4 linked regions of the Homo sapiens genome follow. The protein of the gene in region 3 interacts with the protein of the main gene of each other region in a biochemical or structural test. Each region holds a gene or a part of one and is shown on either strand. Other genes may lie near its edges.

Region 1 (4,387 bases), on a different chromosome or scaffold from region 3:
AGGGGCGCGGACAGCAGCGCATGCCACAAACATTCACCTGGCAAAGAAACAGAGCAGAACCTAAGGGCTCTGTGTACACACAGACACAAACATGAGGCCACTGTTACCCAACTAATAGAAGAGAGTCATGAGCGACACGACACTTCCTTACGACCTCTCTCTCCTAAAACGTAACATTATGTGTTTAACACACGCTTACCACCACTGCTAACTCAGCAAGCGCGATTACAGTGCTCCAACTTAATAAGTTGATAAAAAGCTGTCCCGTGGCCAGTTCACAATGGAACTAAATAGTTTCGTTCCGAGATGCCTGGGGAGTTTCTCTGGCAACGAGGCATTTCCAACAAACGGGTCATTCTGTCACCAGGGGATGGTCTCAGTCCACGGCACAGAGCGACGTGCCCCTGGCAGCACTGTGGAGGGCAAGGGATGCCGCTAGGAGGGGTGCTCAGTCCTCCTGGAGGACCCAAGGAGGGGCTGGCCAAGGGGCCACCTTGAGCTCTGGCCGGAGGGTGATGGCTGGCTTTGCATGAGGAGGTGACAAGAACTTTGGGCTGGGCCCCCAACATGCTGTGTGCACGGGCCTTGTTCAACTCGGAACTGAACTGACACCTCTCCCAGGTGGTGAAGGGCAGAACCCCCCCAGGAGCTCTCGGAAGCAGGGGTCCCTCACGACAGGCCTGTGGCACCAGGCTTGGAGGCAGGGAGCTGGTGTCTCTCAGAAGCGGCGCGTGCTGGTGGGAGGCGGAGGGACAAACGAGGCTGACTCCGCAGCAGCAGTCCCTCACACGCTGTGTGGTGGCTAAAGCTGGACCAAAGTTAAGAAGCGAAACAGCGTGGGAAAAGGTGTCCATCTTTTCTGAAGCCGGTTAATGTCTAGTGTGGACAGCAATATTTGGTGTTTTAACAAACCTGGTCTCTAATAGGGGCCGCCATCGCTGGTGGCTGCACAAACCATTAGCCATATAAGGGAACAGTTGGTATCTTTAAGAGTATTTTTCAAACATGTCACCCGAACATCACCGCCCCAGCAGTGGGAGAGCCGAGGGTGGCCTGCAGCTCCCCCTTCCAGCCCTCTTGTTGCTGCAGGGACGGCTTCCTGTTCAGCTCTGGGGTTCTAGGTGGTCACAGACCAAGTCCTCCACACCTGGGGCATTCAAGAAACACTCCTGATGGCTGTTGGAAGCCACTAACCATCTGAGGAGGGCTCAGTGGCCCTGCCTCCCCCCCGGGGACAGGACTGGACAGAGTGCTTCTCCCAGGGGCCTGAGGCTTTCAAGGGCAGGTGTCCAAGAGGCAGCACACAGCACTGACGTGTTCAGTGGCAGGTTGGAGGATTCCAGCTAAGGCCCCTGCCTGAGAGTGAGAAAAACAACACTCCAAAGCTAGCTCTTCAGCCACCAGGGAACGTCATGATGCCAGTCTGCCGACAGACCCAGGAAAGGGGACACAGGCAGGCCGGCCCAGCTGAGAGCTCACGGCCTCTGCCCCTTCCCGCCAGCTCGCATTCCTGCACCTGGAAACTTCTGCCATGTGTTAAGGGGAAGCTCGTTAAAAGAGTCTTTACTTAGCTGACTTGTATAGGGAACAAAACCACCACAAATGAGACCAACATTATCCTAGTTTGGTAACTGGTCTGCGCACATTACACAAGACTCGACCAACCGACACACCCTGCCTGACACTCCACTCAGTGTGCAGAGGCACCCAGGCCACCAGCCTGCACAGCCCACACCCCAAGGGTGCCACGAGCCCAACTCCAGCTGCGTCCTCAGCACTGGATGGCTGGCCAGCTTCCCCAGGGGGCACCCGCACGGCCTCCTCGTCCCTCTCGGGCAAGGCTATCAGCCAGAGCACCTCCCCTTTGACACTGACCGGCGTCCCCAGCCCCGCCTTGTTACTGCATCCGTCTGAGGTACAAGGTTAGAAGCCACAGACACCCGAGCTGCAGCCTGACCCACACAAGCTGCGGGCGCAATGGCGCTTTGCAGACAAGACAGCCTGCCCGTCTGCCCTTCTTCTCGGCTTCCCTTAAGACACAAGGTGACGACACGGACGGTTTCAAGTGAGTGCAATCTGGAAATAATCTCAGTGCAGGGGAGGGGTTGAGGCCAAAGATGTCGTGACCTGGTCCCCGCTGTGGCCAGGCCGGGCCCACACGCACCGCCAGAGCCCCGGTCACCCACACCTGCCTCCCAGGAAGGCAGCTCCAGAAACCGACTCTACTGACCCTGGACCCCAGCCCCTGCGGTCCCCTCATTTGGGCTCTGCACACTGACCTGCACACTAAGAAGGGCTTTGCTTGCAAACACCTGAAGTGCTGACAGCTTGACGAGTCTACAAAGTGTGCAGCCACCGACTCCTGTCACCGAGGAGCACACAACAGTCACGCCTGTCCCTGGCTGGCACTGGCTTCCGGCACGTTCATACCCTGACAGTGACTGTGGCAAGGCCATGTGGAGGGCACTGAATGGCCTTTGTTGTCCTTACTTCAGATTAGTCGAGGCTGGGATCTCAAGGGTTAACACACTATTCAGAGGGGGGTTGCGAAGCCCCTCTTCCTCCTAAAAATCAAGTCGCAGCCAGGCCCTGAGACTTCTGCACTCCCAGCTGGCGAGGAATCGGCTTTGGTGAGCCCTGGATCCGGCCCCTGGGCCTTCAGATGAGGGTGGGAAGCCTCAGGCAAGGGGTGGCCCCCAGATGAACCCACATTTGGTGTGGTTTGGGTCGGATCTTGATTCGGGTCAGGCCACTGCCACCCCACATCCGCTGCTTTCTTGCCTCCAACTGTTTTATAGTCGTCAGGACGAGAAGCCGGAGAAACCAGCTAAGACGGGAGCTGCGCCTCGAGATCCTGACAAGTACAGCCAGGTCTCAGAGAGGGGATCTACAGTCTTAAAGCCGCTAGAGGATCAAGTTGCATAGAGTGAGCTGCCACGGACGCCCGGCCGAGGTGAGGAAGCCAGGGGTGCCGTCCCCCAGAGAAGAAGGGCCACAGTGCCCAGCCCACGGGGCTCCCGCTGGCCGGAGGGCTCGCAGCAAAGCTGGCAGCACTTTCAGTAGTCGGACTTGCCCTGTCCAAGCACGAGATTCACAAGGCCATTCTCAAGTTTCCACACATCCAGAAAATGTTCTTGAAGTCTTGAAAGTCAGCCCTCTGCGATCCTGGGACACCGTGGCCTGGCAGACACACCGTGCGTGAGCAGGTACCCAACTGCCACCCGGACACAAACACACAATCTACAAAGTGCCACCAGCGGCAGGAGACACGGCAAGACCAGAGGCCCATCAAGTACATTAAACAGTCGTTCCTTTAAATACACAGAAAATTCAAGTAATTTATTTAAAAACTGCTTTAGTTTCATCTTGAAATATATATACGTGTATATATATATTTGCTCTAGAATGATCATATTGCAGCATGATTCTCATGCATTTCAAAGTACTTTATTTAAAAAACAACTTGAGGCAGCAAAAGTATTAATTACAATTGTCTGACTTTATCTGTGTGATGTGCGGGGCCTCCCTGTCTCCTGATCTCAGTAAGCCTACACCGACCGTTTCAAATAGGCTTAGTTCTAAAGAGACTGTGGTTTGGAAAACATTTCCAAATAGCTGCAGTACTTGCCCGAGTTTTGCTTATTCGTTGAAACCAGAACGACTGTGCGGAGCCCTCCGGTGACACGGGCCTTAGCTGTCCCAGACGTCTGCGTCCCTTTGCACCTGTCCCGATTCCAGCGTCGAGCAGGTGAGCAGGCGAGGAAGGCATGGAGTTCCGACAGGTTCCAGCACGCATGTCCCCTTCGCAAGCGGGGGAGGCCCTCGCACATCCACACACCCGAGGTAGCCTTGCGGCGGGACTTGGGAGGCAGGGCCCGCTGGGAGCTCTGCTCTCAGGAATCCCCAGCAAATGGTTTAGAGACGAATCAAAGTGCAGTGAAAGTCAACGTTTCCTTCCCCCTGACGTTGGGAGCGGTCTGGAGGGGCAACCTGGCCTCCTAGGAGAGTCCTTCAGACGGGACGAGCGGGGTCACATGGCTGGGCGCAGACACACTCACACGCGCACGCAGGAGCTCGTCTGGAGCTCACGCTCCGCCCCCAGGTGGTGCCCAGCCCATCCCTGGGCAGGGTGTCTGGGAGCCACCCCTGCAAATCACTGTCTTCTGCCCAGGCCCCCCGGACCAGCCTCCTCCCAGCTTTGGTGTGCGGTCGCTGCCCAAGGACAGGGCTGCCCTGGGCACAATGTGTCCAACTCGCTGAGGAAAAGAAGATACGTCATTCTTCTAAGAGAACCACATTGTGGAAAAGAAAATTTTTTTTCTAAAATAATCATAAAGAAAAATACTCTCCAACAGCTGCGGCACCAGCCAATGTGACGAGATCTGAC
Region 2 (4,387 bases), on a different chromosome or scaffold from region 3:
TTCTATATAAATACCTGACTAAAAAGGAAAAACAAAAAACTACTCATTTTGAAAGCCAAACATTTGTGAATCATTGTATGTTTTTAACACTGCCTTACTTTACCCACCATCTCTCTATATTATGGTGTTTTAAGAGCGCTGTCTAGGTTTAAATCCCTGTTCTATAACTTTCTAGTATACTTTCTAGAAGTATACTTTCTAGAACTTTTTTTTCCCTAAGCCTTTACTTTTTTTTTTTTAGAGCAGTTTCAGGTTCCTAGAACTATAACCACACCTGGCTCCCACAAATGCATAGTCTGTCTCCCTGATTATCATCACCCCCAGCCAGAGTGGAATACTTGTTACAACTGATAAGTCTACATTGATGCATCATTATTCGCCTGCCCGCAGTCCATGGTTTACATTCAGGTTCACTCTTGTTGTACATTCTGAGGGTTTGGATAAATGTATGACATGTATCCACCATTAATTAAGTTGCATAAAGAGTAGTTTCACTGTCCTATAAAATGCTCTGTGCTCTGCCTATTCATGCAACCCTCTCTAAAACCCCTAGCAACCACTGATCTTTTAACTTTCTTGATAGTTTTGCCTTTTCCAGAGTGTCATATAATTGGAATCATAAAATGTGCAGCCTTTTCAGGATGGCTTCTTCCACTTGGTAATATGCATTTAAGGTTCCTCCATGTCTTTTTATGGCTTGATAGCTCATTTCTTTTTAGCACTGAATAATATTCTACTGTCTGGATGTACCACAGTTTATCCATTTACCTACTGAAGGACATTTTGATTGCTTCCAAGTTTTGGTAACTATGAATAAACCTATTATGAACACCTATCTACAGGTTTTTGTGTGGACACAAATTTTCAGCTCCTCGGGGTAAATATCAAAGAGTATGACTGCTGGATCGTATAGTATGTTTAGTTTTGTTAAGAAACTGCCAAACTGTCTTCCAAAGTGGCTGTATCATTTTGTATTCCCAACAATAATGAATGAGATAGCATATCTTTTTGCAAGTTAATTCTTTGCACTGCTTCTCATTGGTAAAACCGGAGGAAAGAACAGTATCTCATTATAAAATTAGTGTGCAGAGTAAATGAAAAACGCATGTGAAGTACTTATAATAGTCCTAGAACATAATAAATACTCAATACATCATAACTACTATTATTGCCAAAAACAGTTGAATTCTAGAGGCAGTAGAGTGTACTATTTAAGATAAGAACAGGTGCTGTACTGTTAGATAGACCTAAGTCAATGTCCCAGCTCTATTGTTTACTAAGGTCTCTGGGTAAGCTCATAAATCTCTTTAAATCTAAATTTTCTCATCTTAAAATGTTATAATAGGCCAGGTACAGTGCCTCATGCCTGTAATCCCAGCACTTTGGGAGACTGAGGCAGGAAGACTGCTAGAGTCCAGGAATTCAAGACCAGCCTGAGCAACACAGCAGGACCCCATTTTTACAAAAAAAAAAAAAAAAAAAAAGTTAGCTGGGCTTGGCGGTGCATGCCTGTAGTCCTAGCTGCAGGAGTGAGCTAGGCTTAGCTACAGGCTGAGGTGGGAGGATCGCTTGAGCCCAGGAGTTCGAGGTTACAGTGAGCTATAATCACTTCACTACACTCCAGCCTGGGCAACCCCGTCTCAGAAAAAAAAAAAAGTTATTAATTCTAGAGTCTATCTCACAGAGTTATTTTAAGAATTAAATGAGACAATGACTATAAGGCCCTCATCACAATATGTGACACACAATAAGTCTCTTATCATCTTGATTATCAAGAGAAACACATAAGAAAGATCTCTGAAAGAGGAAAGAAAACGTATTTGCCAAATGTCTAATAGGGACCATATATGTTATTTTATTTTAATCCTCAAACCAATGAAGTACGGAGAAAGAAACAGCCTGAAACAAGATATGTAATTTATATTAGGTCACAAAGCTAGTACACAACAGCCAAGATTCAAACTTCTCACCTATCTGACTCCAAAACAAATTCTTCTAACATACTGCACCCTACACTCTCTTCCTTTCCGCCTCCACTATCAGACATCTCCCTGCAACACTCCCATTAGATGATCAACTAAGATTATCTGGTTACAATTAATGGACCTGAGGTAGCTTGGAATAAAGGGAGTATTACTTCAACAAATATCTTACTTAGTGCCATTTCAAAAGTTTTCGTGCCCTTAAAGGTGTTTTTGCCTCTCTCAGGGTGAGCAGGGAAAAATATTAGTCCCTACAGTTGTTGTTCTGATAAATAAGATTGTTTATTTCAATTCCCTTATAATCCCAATAATTCTCCATTGCTAACATCAAAAAGAAGTGTTTCTGGACTTAAAATCCCTGCTTTTTGACATGAGAGAAAATTTCCATTAAACATCTGGCTCAGGAACACTTACACTCGGTGATAGCAGTTAGGCAACTGGTCAAGAGTAAAAAAAAAAAAAAAAATGAGATAAGAAAGATGACTCACAAGAGCATACATATGAGCAATCCGGTCATGTAATGACATTGGAGAAGACAGCCTATGGGGGCTGTCCTTCCTTTCTTTCCTTTTTAACAACATATTAAAATCATGAATTTACTAAGAATAATTAAAAAGAAGCATTACTTCTTTTCATGGATTTTTAAGGAAGTATGTTTGTCCTATTTTTTTTTTTGAAACGGAGTCTGACTCTGTCGACCAGGCTGGAATGCAAGTGGCGCAATCTCAGCTCAGTGCAACCTCCGCCTTCCAGGTTCAAGTGATTCTCCTGCCTCAGCCTCCCAAGTAGCCCAGCTAATTTTTTGTATTTTTCGTAGAGACAGGGTTTCACCATGTTGACTAGGCTGGTGTCAAACTCCCGACCTCGTGATTTGCCCACCTTGGTCTGGGAATACAGGCATGAGCCACCGCGCCCGGCCTGTCCTATGTTTTTATGAGCAATAAGAGGGAGAGAAAAAAATTAAGATTTCAAAACACATAGGTAACCTCCAGTTTAGTTACACTCAAGCTTATTCCCTATAAGAAATAAAAACAGCATTTAAATATCTCTGTTAAATAATCAACCCCAGTGTGCATAGCAGAAAGAGAGGTCAACTGGGCCATGAGGGAAAAAAATTGAGTTCTGTATTCAGCTCTATCACCAACTAAAAAATTTTAAGCATTTCACTTCATCTCTCTGAAAATCACTTCTTTCTGTTTTAAAGATGAACAAGTTTACCCTAGCATTTACAGATTAAATTTTTGTTTCAACTGTTTATGAACAACTCCAAATGTCTGAGATTGTAATAATTTGTAATTAGTCTCCACATGAATTCAGATTAAATACTGTTGAACTGCTGTGCAGGAAGGAACATGTCTCTTAAGTGAACTCAAGGGTGGCAAACTTCTCTAAAGAGCCGAACAGCAGGCTTTGCAGGTCTTATGGTCTCTGTCTCAATTACTGTATTCTGCTACTGTAGTGCAAAAACTACCATAGACAATATATATGAATGAACAGAGCTATATTCCAATAAAGCTTTATTTCTGGACACAGTTTAAATTTCGTATGATTTCCATGCGCTACAAGGTCGTTCCAACTATTTTAAATTGTAAAAACCATTGTTAGGCCAGGCACAGTGGCTCATGCCTGTAATCCCAGCACTTGTGGGAGGCACATCACCTGAGGTCAGGAGTTTGAGACCAGTCTGGCCAACATGGTGAAACCCCATCTCTACTAAAAATACAAAATTAGCTGGGTGTGGTGGTGGGCGCCTGTAATCCCAGCTACTCAGGAGGCTGAGGCATAAGATTCCCATGAACCCAGGAGGTGGAGGTTGCACTGAGCTGAGATCACACCACTGCACTCCAGCCTGGCACAGAGCGAGACTCTGTCTCAAAAAAAAAAAAAAAATCATTGTTACATTACAGGTTGTACTGATTTTTGAAAAAAGTGCAAAAGCAATTCAATGGAAGATTAATCTTTTCAACAAAAGGTGCTAGAGCAACTGGATATCCTTAGGCAAGAAGAAAAAAAATGGCGACCTAAACCTCACACCTGTACAAAATTAACTCAAATGGATGACAGATTAAAATACAAAAGTTAAAATTATAAAACTTTTAGAAGAAAACAAAGGAGAAAATCTTTGGGATCTAGGACTTGGTATGTTAGATATGATGCCAAAAACATGATCCATTAAAGAAAAAAAAAAACTTAGTAAATTGGATATCAACAAAATTTAAAATTTTTGCTCTGTGAAGTATCCCACTGAGAAGGTAGAAAGGACCAGGCACAGTGGCTCCTGTCTGTAATCCCAACACTTTGGTAGGCCAAGGCGGGAGGATCACTTAAGCCCAGGAGTTTGAGACCAGCCTGGACAACACAGAGAGACCCTGCCTCTATCAAAAAAAAAAAAAAAAAAAAAAACA
Region 3 (5,275 bases):
AGAAAATACAACAGAAGAAAAAATGGCATTCACAGTAGAAACAGAAGCTGAACTAGGGTCTCTTACTGTAACAAAGAAGACAAGATCATTACGGAAAAAAAAAAAAAATCTGACCTCCATTGAATAAAACATTAATACCACTGATAAGTGGTTTCCACTCGGGATATAGATCAGTGTCACCAGAGGAGATTTTAAAAAATACAATTGCTAGACTCCACTCTCTAGAGATTATAATTCAGTTCATCTGTGGTCAATGGGACATATTTTTTTAAAAGCTACCTAGCAAATTCTAATATAAAGCCATGGTTGAAAACTACCAGTTTAAATATGTTTTTAAAATAACACAGGAGGGAGTCATTCTTCTAGATATCAAAATATATAAACAAGTTGTAGCAATAAAAATAAAAGCAAAATCCACTGTGAAATTAGAACAGAAACAGACAAATTGATCAGAACAGAGCAGGGAGCCTAAAAAGGTGAGAGAGAGAGAATGTGTGTGTCTGTGTCTCTGTGTGCATATATACGAGTGTGTGGATCTTGACATATGATACAGGTAGCATCACAAACCACTAGGTTATTTAGTAAATGAGATTTGGGAAAATTCGTTTGCCATAGAAGAAAATACAGAAACATAACTTTGTTAACTAGGAATGGAGAAATATTTCCTACACAAGACCCAGAAGGTTAAAAAAAAAAAAAAAAGGTTGGATCATAACAAAATTAAAGATTCCGTTTAATGAAAGATTTCAAAGAAAAAATCTGACAGGTGAAAAACAAAAGATGCGTATACCATTTAAAATCCAACGAGAGACTGAAAAAAGAAGAAAACTGCTATAAATTAGGGCAGAAAAATGGGAAACAGATATGAAAAGCTAACAGAAAAAGAGGCAAAGGATATATAAATGGCGAACTCAACCGAGGAAAAACACACACAGTATACGATAGGATATTCCACTGCATTAGTAATCAGATAGCTGCAAATAAGAACAATAACATATCACTTTGTGCTGGATTGCTCCATCTGTTGCATCAGATTGGAAAAAATTATAAGGTCAGAAAATGCCACATGCCAGCAAGAATGCAGGGAGCAACAGCTGGTGAAAGTGTCAATGAGATAACAATCTGGTCGTACTTAAGGGAATTATGCATATGCCAGAGAGAGGGTCCCCTGGGGGCAAGGAAGAACATGAATGGGGATAGGTGATGAAGGGGAAAGATACAATAAAATAAGGTGGGAGACTCTACACGGACCAATCATGACAGTGTGCCATGAAGTGAGTGCTAACTCCAGTCCGAGCCCCTGAGCTGGGGAGGGAGCGGAGCGGGGCAGCTCCGCGTCACAGGTCCCTTCACCCAACCAGCAGGTATTCAGTCTCTACATACCAGGAACTGCATCCCATCCTAGCGACCGAGTAGCAAAAGATCAAGCCCTTACCCTCATAGGGTTTATGTCCTAGTGAAGGAAACAATAAAAAGGAAACAAATAAGATAATGATAAGAGAGTGTTAACAGCTAACAAGTAAGACAGTGATAGTGACAGAAAGTGATGGAAAGAGGGTTTCACTAATGAAAGGATAGCCAGAGGTGAGATCCCGCAGGTCTGCAGAAAGAAAATGAACCAGGCATTCAGCAAGCCGAGAGATGAGATCCCAAAGAATTGCGTTCAAGGGCTGGGCGTGGTGGCTCACGCCTGTAATACCAGCACTTTGGGAGGCCGAGGCGGGCGGATCATGAGATCAGGAGATCCAGACAATCCTGGCTAACACAGTGAAACCCTGTCTCTACTAAAAATACAAAAAAATTAGCCGGGTGCCTGTAGTCCAGTTTAAATATGTTTTAAACTGGAGGCTGAGGCAGGAGAATGGCGTGAAGCCGGGAGGTGGAACCTGCAGTGAGCTGAGATCACACCACTGCACTCCAGCCTGGGGGACAGAGCAAGACTCCGTCTCGAGAAGAACTGCGTTCAAGGTCATCAAATACAAAGTTGTCATAGTACAGGCGACAGTGTGTTCTAAAGATGACTTTCAGGTACTTCCTGTCATTCAGCTCCCAGAAGCAACCTTCAAAATACCTGTTATATAAAATGTAAACTATAAGGGTTATTGTGAGAGTCCAACATACGGTGATTAAAGAATGCAAACTTTTTGAAGGGGAAGAGGGAGGAGGCAGCATCGATATGAATGTGCTATGCCTCTAAAAAATGTTTCTGGAAAATTACTAGGATCCACAAACTTTTCCTTCACTCCTTAAAAAGTAATTGAGTAATCATATTTTTTCCCCAGCACAGTGCCAGGAAATGAGGTTAAGTATTAAATTTTCTGTCTTTGCTTCAATTGTATAAGATGCAGGATCCTATTTATTTTATATACGTACTGTTTTTATGGATAAAAGAAAACATTTATTGCATGCTTGCAATCTGCAAGGCCCTGTTCCCTGAGCTTCTACACATTGGAGCCCACTTACATTCACAACAAAATACTATATTATTTCCACTTTAGAGACGGAACAACAGAGGTTAAGAAACTTGCCTAAAGTCAAAGTACTAGAAAGCAGCAGAGCAGAGATTCAAACCCAGGTCTTTCAAAGTGTTAACCACTACACTTACGTTTCCCCCTAGAGTGGCTGGCCCCTGCAGTGGCTGTAGCACATGGCCTTAGAACTTATTAGAAATGCAAATCGCCAGGACCTCCCCTCCCAGACCGACTGATCAGAAATTCTGGGGCTGGAAGGCAGCTGCCTAAGGTTTCACAAGCCCTCCGTGTGATCCCAAGGTATGCTAAAGTTTGAGAACCACTGGTAGAAATTTTTCATACTAAGCATAATGTGAAAGGTGAAATTACTACCATTTTGAAACTTCTAAAATATAAAATTTGTATCCTATTTAAAATGACTATGAAGAAACGAAAACAGTGTTAGTTCATTTCCTCACTGCTCAACTTCTTTCTCCCAAACTTGACAAAATGCCTAATCTCTATCCTGATTATACTATGTACAAAAAGGGTACTCTGATGAGCGTTAGAGCACAGAGGTCTGAACTCACTCTTCAGAAGTAATCAGAAGCCATAATAGGAAGAGAAAAAAACAATATTTTGAATATCAGCAGAAGCTTGATAAATCTTGGGCCATAACTCCAAATTTTGATCCCAGGCTCAACTCCAAATTTTTACAACATGACTTCAACAGTCTTCCCAATGCCAAAAAAAGAAGTTACAACCCCGAGAAATATTTGATTAACAAGATTCAAACTGCTTTAAGTGCACATACAGAGAAACTGTCCAAGAGTGTGTTTTTATCAGGAGTGAAGCTAAGGAATGCCTAATTACACATCAGACCCTCTGACAATATTCACAGCAAAAGGGGTTAACGTTATCCCTGTCCCTGCACACACCTGCCGTGTACGGCATCCTACCTGATCCTTCTCTTTTCAAAGCTATATCTAGACCGGGAGACTTTTCTCCCCAACTCAAGTACTCAATTTGAGCAGTACAGCTCTATGTGTATTCAAGTTTGCCTATTTCTAATAAGGCCTTTTTTTGTTGTTAAAGGGATGGAAGAAAGAGTATGAGAAATAAGTATATTCAAGCACCTACCATAATCTGAAATCTTCCATAAGCCAAATAACTCTCTGAAGCTATTCACTCGCATACTCAAGTCATTAATTTTATAAATTTCAGGTTTCTACTTATTCCAAAAATTTAAAACATAAAATTGAAGATTAAGGAGTACTTAGTCCAAGCTTGGACCACAGGAGAGCTATAAACCTGTCTTAAAATGCTTAATGACCTGATTAAGGTCATCAAAGGTAAAGAAAACTCTAGGAAGCAGCCTTTTAATCTGCCTGGCTACTTACAACCACCCACCTTTTCCATGCCCACGCTCTCCTAAGGGCTGAAGGCACTGCCAAGAATGACCTTCCTAGAAGGGCTGAATCCTATTTATTTTCTCTCTCCCAAATCTCCACCAAATCCCCTAAGAACTGGCAGTGTTCTGGTAAGAAACAATTTACTATTGCTCTCCTCCCCACCCACAGTTCAGTGCAACTGAAGTGAACACACACACACCCCAACCACTGAAAGACTTTCTCACTTAGATTCCTATCCTGCATTTTCAAAGTCCAAAGTTGTCTTCAAAATATCTTGCAAAATGCAGTCGTACCAGCTAGTCTTTAATCTCCACTAACATTGCCAGTTCTATACCCAAAATGGATATCGCAACTGCTATGTATTTTCATCTCCCTTCTCTAACAATCAGTAACAAGCAACCCAATCAGTAATAAACAAGCCTGACAAATAGCTCCTAAATTCACAGAGAAAAGAATGGTCTCCTCTCTTTCATAAGTAAAGCAAGCTGATAATGTTCTAGTAAATAGAAAGACTAAATGCCTCTTCAAGAAAAAAACATTTATATGCCTGGAAAAAACATCTTGGGTTTTTTTGTTTTTGTTTTTTTACTTAAGTATCTGTTCATAGTAGGTAGCAAATAATCTTTCCACACATATGCACTTTACCAGTTCTTTTAAAGACTCAGTAATCTAAGAAAGCAAAGCATAAGACTATGCTGAAAGAGCTAAGCCGCAGTTTACATAAAATTTAAACAAAACACAAGACATTAAAAAAATTCAACTACTCATAAATAAAGACCAATAAATCTACACTTTGGTCTGGGTTTCTGAACACAGGAAGAATCAGAGGGTTCAATAGGAGAGGTTATTTCTGAAATCGTAGGCATACCTTGAAGATATCACATGTTCCATTCCAGACCACCTTAGTAAAACTAACACTGCAATAAGGTAACAGAAATGTTTCTGCTTTCCAAGTGCATATAGAAGTTATATTTACAGTATACTGTAGTCTATTATGTTGGCAATAGCATTAGCTCTTAATTTTAAAATGCTTTATAATTTTTTTAAAATGCTAGTGATCATCCGAGCCTTCAGGGAGTCATAATCTTTTTGCTGGTGGAGGATTTTGCCTTGATGTTGATGGCTGCTGACTGAACAAGGTGCTGGCTGCTGAAAGATGGATGGCTGTGGCAATTTCTTAAAATAAGAAAACAATAAGGCCGGGCGCTGTGGCTCACGCCTGTAATCCTAACACTTTGGGAGGCTGAGGTGGGTGGACTGCGTGAGCTCAGGAGTTCAAGACCAGCCTGGTCAACAGAGTGAAACCCCATCTCTACTAAAATATAAAAAATTAGCCAGCTGTGGCAGTGTGCACCTGTAATCCCAGCTACTCAGGAGGCTGAGACAGGAGAATCTCTTAAACCTGGGAGGCGG
Region 4 (4,387 bases), on a different chromosome or scaffold from region 3:
AAAGGTTTGTTCTATCACTCATTTTTTTTTCTCTTTTTCTTTTTTTGAGACGGAGTCTCACTCTGTCACCCAGGCTGGAGTGCAGTGGCACAATTTCGGCTCACTGCAACCTCCACCTCCTGGTTTCAAGCAGTTCTTCCCCCTCAGCCTCCTGAGTAGCTGGGATTACAGGCACCTGCCATCATGCCTGGCTAATTTTTGTATTTTTAGTAGAGACGGGGTTTCACCATGTTGGCCAGGCTGGTCTTGAACTCCTGAGCTTGTGATCTGCCTGCCTCGTTTTTGTATTACACATCACATTCAACACACTTTACTGACCACCTACTTTGTGCTAAAACAACATGAAATGTTGAAGGGGCCTTAGGACAATAGAGTTTTGGCCCTCTCCATGACAGAAGACAGCAGAGACTCCTGGAGAGCACGGACCTTGGACATCAGACAGGCATGGCTCTGAGTCTTGCCTTTGCCACTTATTTGCTGTGACTGCAGCCAAGTAACTCTCCGAGCCTCCGTTTCCTCATTTGTAAAGTAGAGATGATGATGATGATGATGATGATGATGATGATGGTGTCCTTACCTTGTCTCAAGGTTGTTGATTTGTAAGGGATTTGGCAGACTGTCTGAAATACAGTATGACTTAGTAAGTGTTACCTTTTCTCCAGTTCATCTCTCTTTTTCCAAAAACTTTAAATCATTTCAGTGAGTGAGAACATTCTATAAAGCTAAGTATAATCAAAGGCAAATTGGAATAACTACTTCAGAGAAAGAAAAATAATAACAACACACTATCTCACTTGCCTCACAACTCTATCAAGGTGCTATTAATCCACATTTTTTTTTTTTTTGGAGACGGAGTTTCGCTCTTGTTGCCCAGGCTGGAGTGCAGTGGCATGATCTCAGCTCACTGCAAGCTCTGCCTCCCGGGTTCAAGGGATTCTCCTGCCTCAGCCTCCCGAGTAGCTGGGACTATAGGCGCCTGCCACCACACCCAGCTAATTTTTTGTATTTTTAGTAGAGATGGAGTTTCACCATGTTAGCCAGGATGGTCTCGATCTCCTGACCTCGTGATGAGCCCACCTCGGCCTCCCAAAGTGCTAGGATTACAGGTGCGGGCCACTGTACCCAGCCTTAATCCACATTTTTAAATGAGGATGCTGAGGTTCAGCTATGTCAGAAAATTTGTCCTAGTAAGTAGCAGAGTTTTGATTTGAATTCACATAATCTGACTCTAGAAACCATGTTCTTAACTACCTGTAAAATACTGATTTGAAATATATGAAAAATTTTATGGAAGAACAGAGGAAGGGGCAATTTATTTCAACTTGGGAATAAAGCCTTTGTGAAAGCCTTTGTGAAAAAGAGAAGATCAGAGCTGGGCCTTAAAGGAAGAGCAAGATTTCATTTTGATAGAAGTAAAATGGAAATGGGGATATAAAAAGGAGGACTATTCCAGGCAAAGAAATTGGTGCCAACAATGTGGAGGCATAAAAGGACATGATGTGCTGGAAAACAGGGAGAAATTTGCATGGATAGACATCCCTTGGCTCATGGATACAATATGGTGTAAATCAGTCATGGTAATCCTATTCCCACTTGCCAGACAGATAAATGAAGCAACAGAAAGAATTAGAGAACAGGTTGGGGCCAAATAATGTCATGCCTAGAACATCTTCCAGGACATTTGAAACTTAGAGGCAATAGTGAGCCATAGATGGTTATAGAAGAGTAGATACATGATACTACCCATGGTCCAAGAAAAGAGTTTTCAGTAATGTGGGGGAAATACTAGAATGAGAGAAAACAGTTAAGGGTCTCCTGTTATATTTTAGCTCAGAGACACTAAAGGGTAGATGGGGGCAATGGAAGTGAATATGCACACAGAAATCCCAGAGGAAAATTGGCTGGGCTTGACTATTGATATGGGTGCCTGGAAAGGCCAGTAAGGAGAAGAAGGAGAAGGTAGTTATTCTTGTAAAGTGTAAAATATTGTTCATTGAAAAGCAGTGTAGTAATGAGGGTGCATTGGGCTGCAATGAACAGTACCCAACTAACAGAGATTTAGACAATAAAGACATTTCATATCTCACAAAAGAAGTCTGGGCTGGCTACCGTGGCTCACGCCTGTAATCCCAACACTTTGGGAGGCCAAGGTGGGTGGATCACCTGAGGTCAGGAGTTCAAGACCAGCCTGCCCAACATGGCGAAACCCCATCTCTACTAAAAATACAAAAAATTAGCTGGCCATGGTGGTGAGTGCCCGTAATCCCACCTCCTCGGGAGGCTGAGGCAGGAGAATCGCTTGAACCCAGGAGGCGGATGTTGCAGTGAGCTAAGATCGCGCCACTGCACCCCAGCCTAGGCAACAAGAGTGAAACTCCATCTCAAAAAAAAAAAAAAAAAAAAAAAAAAGGAAGTCTAGAAGTCTGATAGTAGACAGTTCCAGGTAGGGGTAGTTCAACTGCTCAGTGATGTTAGAAAATGGGATGGTGTCTCTGAAATCCCCTTAACCTTTTCCTCACAGTCTCACATGGTGGCAGCAGCAGTTCCAAGTATCTTTTCTTCATATGAGAGTATCCAAAAAAGGCAGGGCTTCTCTTCCCACATCCTAGAAGCTTCTGAGCAAACTTCCTGTATGTCAGAATATTATCACTAGTCACCCTCAGCTACCAGGAAGCTGGAAGAATAAGTATCTGATAAATGGAGATAGGATTACCATGACTGGCTTACACCATGATGTATCCACAGGCTGAGTCTACCATGGACTGATCAAATTCAGGTGTTAATAAGGAAAAAGAGGTCATGACTGCTGAGTGGGTAACCAACAGTGTTTGCCATGAGCATTCTGAACAAGCAATCAGCCTTCTAGAAAATGGGAATTTGCAAGATGATCTTGTAATAATTGGGAGTGAAAGCATCTTTCTGATGAAAGCCAAGCTCCTATTCAGCAGCCTCAGAAGGAAGGGATTAGCCCAGTTTCCTTTCTCAGGACCAACAGCATATTTTGAGTTGCTGAGCTTGGCAGGAAGTGGAGGAAAGGATGATACACAATCACTAGGATTTGTGATTTAGACTGAGAGAACTTCTGGTAAAGTAGCCTCAGGTGAGAAAGAACTCTTCCTCCTCCCAGCAGTCTTCAGAACTGAAGAACATTGGGTCACTCTTTTCACCAGGGCTATATAATCCTCTTTTGCATGTTCCAGTCCTAAAAGGTCCAATTCAGCTACTACTTCCTTCAAGAAGCTTTTCCTATCACTGGTCAACTTGTGCCCCACTGTACTATTTACACACATTTACATACATTTTGCGATCACTCTTGATGCACTTACCTTCCAACCTTACATATGTAAGCTATCATCAAATCCAGTCAACTTGATCTAAATAGCTACTGATTCTATCCACCTCTCCATCTGCATTACTGACAATAACCGCTGAAGTCTAATGGACATGTACTACATGCCAGGCATTATTCTATATATTTTACACTTACTAATCCATTTTATCCTTTCAACAACCCTATTAGGTAGACCATAGTAATTATTTTATGCATAAAGAAATTTGGAGATACAAATGGTAAGGAACTTGATCAAATTCACATAGGTAATAAGTGATAGAGGTACTCTTAGGAGTTCATATCTCAGTTGATAACTACACTGCCTCTCTCATCTAAACCACATTCCATTTTACCTAAATACTGCAACAGGCTCCTATCTGACCTCCTTGCCTGCACTCAACTTCTCTTCAATGCATTTATCCTGAAGTTAGACCTTTATAACCACAAAATATAATCATGACACAATCCCACCATCCCCGATGCCCTCCATAACATAGCCCTGCCTACCTGTCCTGCCTTATCCTGTGTTAGCCTTCTCCTCAACCTTTGGACTCTGACTACCTTGACTGTTTCATTCCTTCCTACCCCAGGACCTTTGCACAGGCAGTCACAGGCAGTTCTCTCAACCTAGAAGGCTCTTCTTTACTTCCAATGCTGTCCACCTTACCTATTGGTATGGTTTGGATGTGCCTCCATCCAAATCTCATCTTGAATTGTACTCCCCTAATTCCCACATGTTGTGGGAGGAACCCAGTGGGCGATAACTTGAATCATGGGGGCAGTTTCCCCCATACTGTTCTCATGGTAGTGAATAAGTCTCACGAGATCTGATGGGTTTATCAGGAGTTTCCGCTTTTTCATCTTCCTCATTCTCTCTTGCTGCCGCCATGTAAGAAGTGTCTTTCACCTCCTGCCATGATTCTGAGGCTCCCCAGTCATGTGGAACTGTAAGTCCAATTAAACCTCTTTTTCTTCCCAGTCTCAGGTTGTTTTTGTCACCAATGTGAAAATTGACTAATATACCTACTTAACTTCTCATTGTTCACATCGCAAGTT

Evidence for each region. The genes of interacting proteins can lie anywhere in the genome.
Region 1: the proteins of MPP7 (region 3) and SLC45A4 interact in a test that uses a peptide from one of them, tested with the Homo sapiens proteins (one large-scale study listed by IntAct).
Region 2: the proteins of MPP7 (region 3) and RSBN1 interact in a test that uses a peptide from one of them, tested with the Homo sapiens proteins (one large-scale study listed by IntAct).
Region 4: the proteins of MPP7 (region 3) and GDA interact in a test that uses a peptide from one of them, tested with the Homo sapiens proteins (one large-scale study listed by IntAct).

Annotation. Positions count from the first base shown.
Region 1 is NC_000008.11:141,207,289-141,211,675, forward strand, and holds part of SLC45A4 (solute carrier family 45 member 4), read right to left. Parts: coding exon 4,284-4,387; coding exon of another isoform or gene 4,154-4,283; 3' UTR 1-4,153. UniProt on the Homo sapiens protein: Proton-associated sucrose transporter. May be able to transport also glucose and fructose.
Region 2 is NC_000001.11:113,802,477-113,806,863, forward strand, and holds part of RSBN1 (lysine-specific demethylase 9), read right to left. Parts: intron 1-4,387. UniProt on the Homo sapiens protein: Histone demethylase that specifically demethylates dimethylated 'Lys-20' of histone H4 (H4K20me2), thereby modulating chromosome architecture.
Region 3 is NC_000010.11:28,292,358-28,297,632, forward strand, and holds part of MPP7 (MAGUK p55 subfamily member 7), read right to left. Parts: intron 1-5,275. UniProt on the Homo sapiens protein: Acts as an important adapter that promotes epithelial cell polarity and tight junction formation via its interaction with DLG1. Involved in the assembly of protein complexes at sites of cell-cell contact.
Region 4 is NC_000009.12:72,155,053-72,159,439, reverse strand, and holds part of GDA (guanine deaminase), read right to left. Parts: intron 621-4,387; exon of another isoform or gene 427-620; intron 1-426. UniProt on the Homo sapiens protein: Catalyzes the hydrolytic deamination of guanine, producing xanthine and ammonia.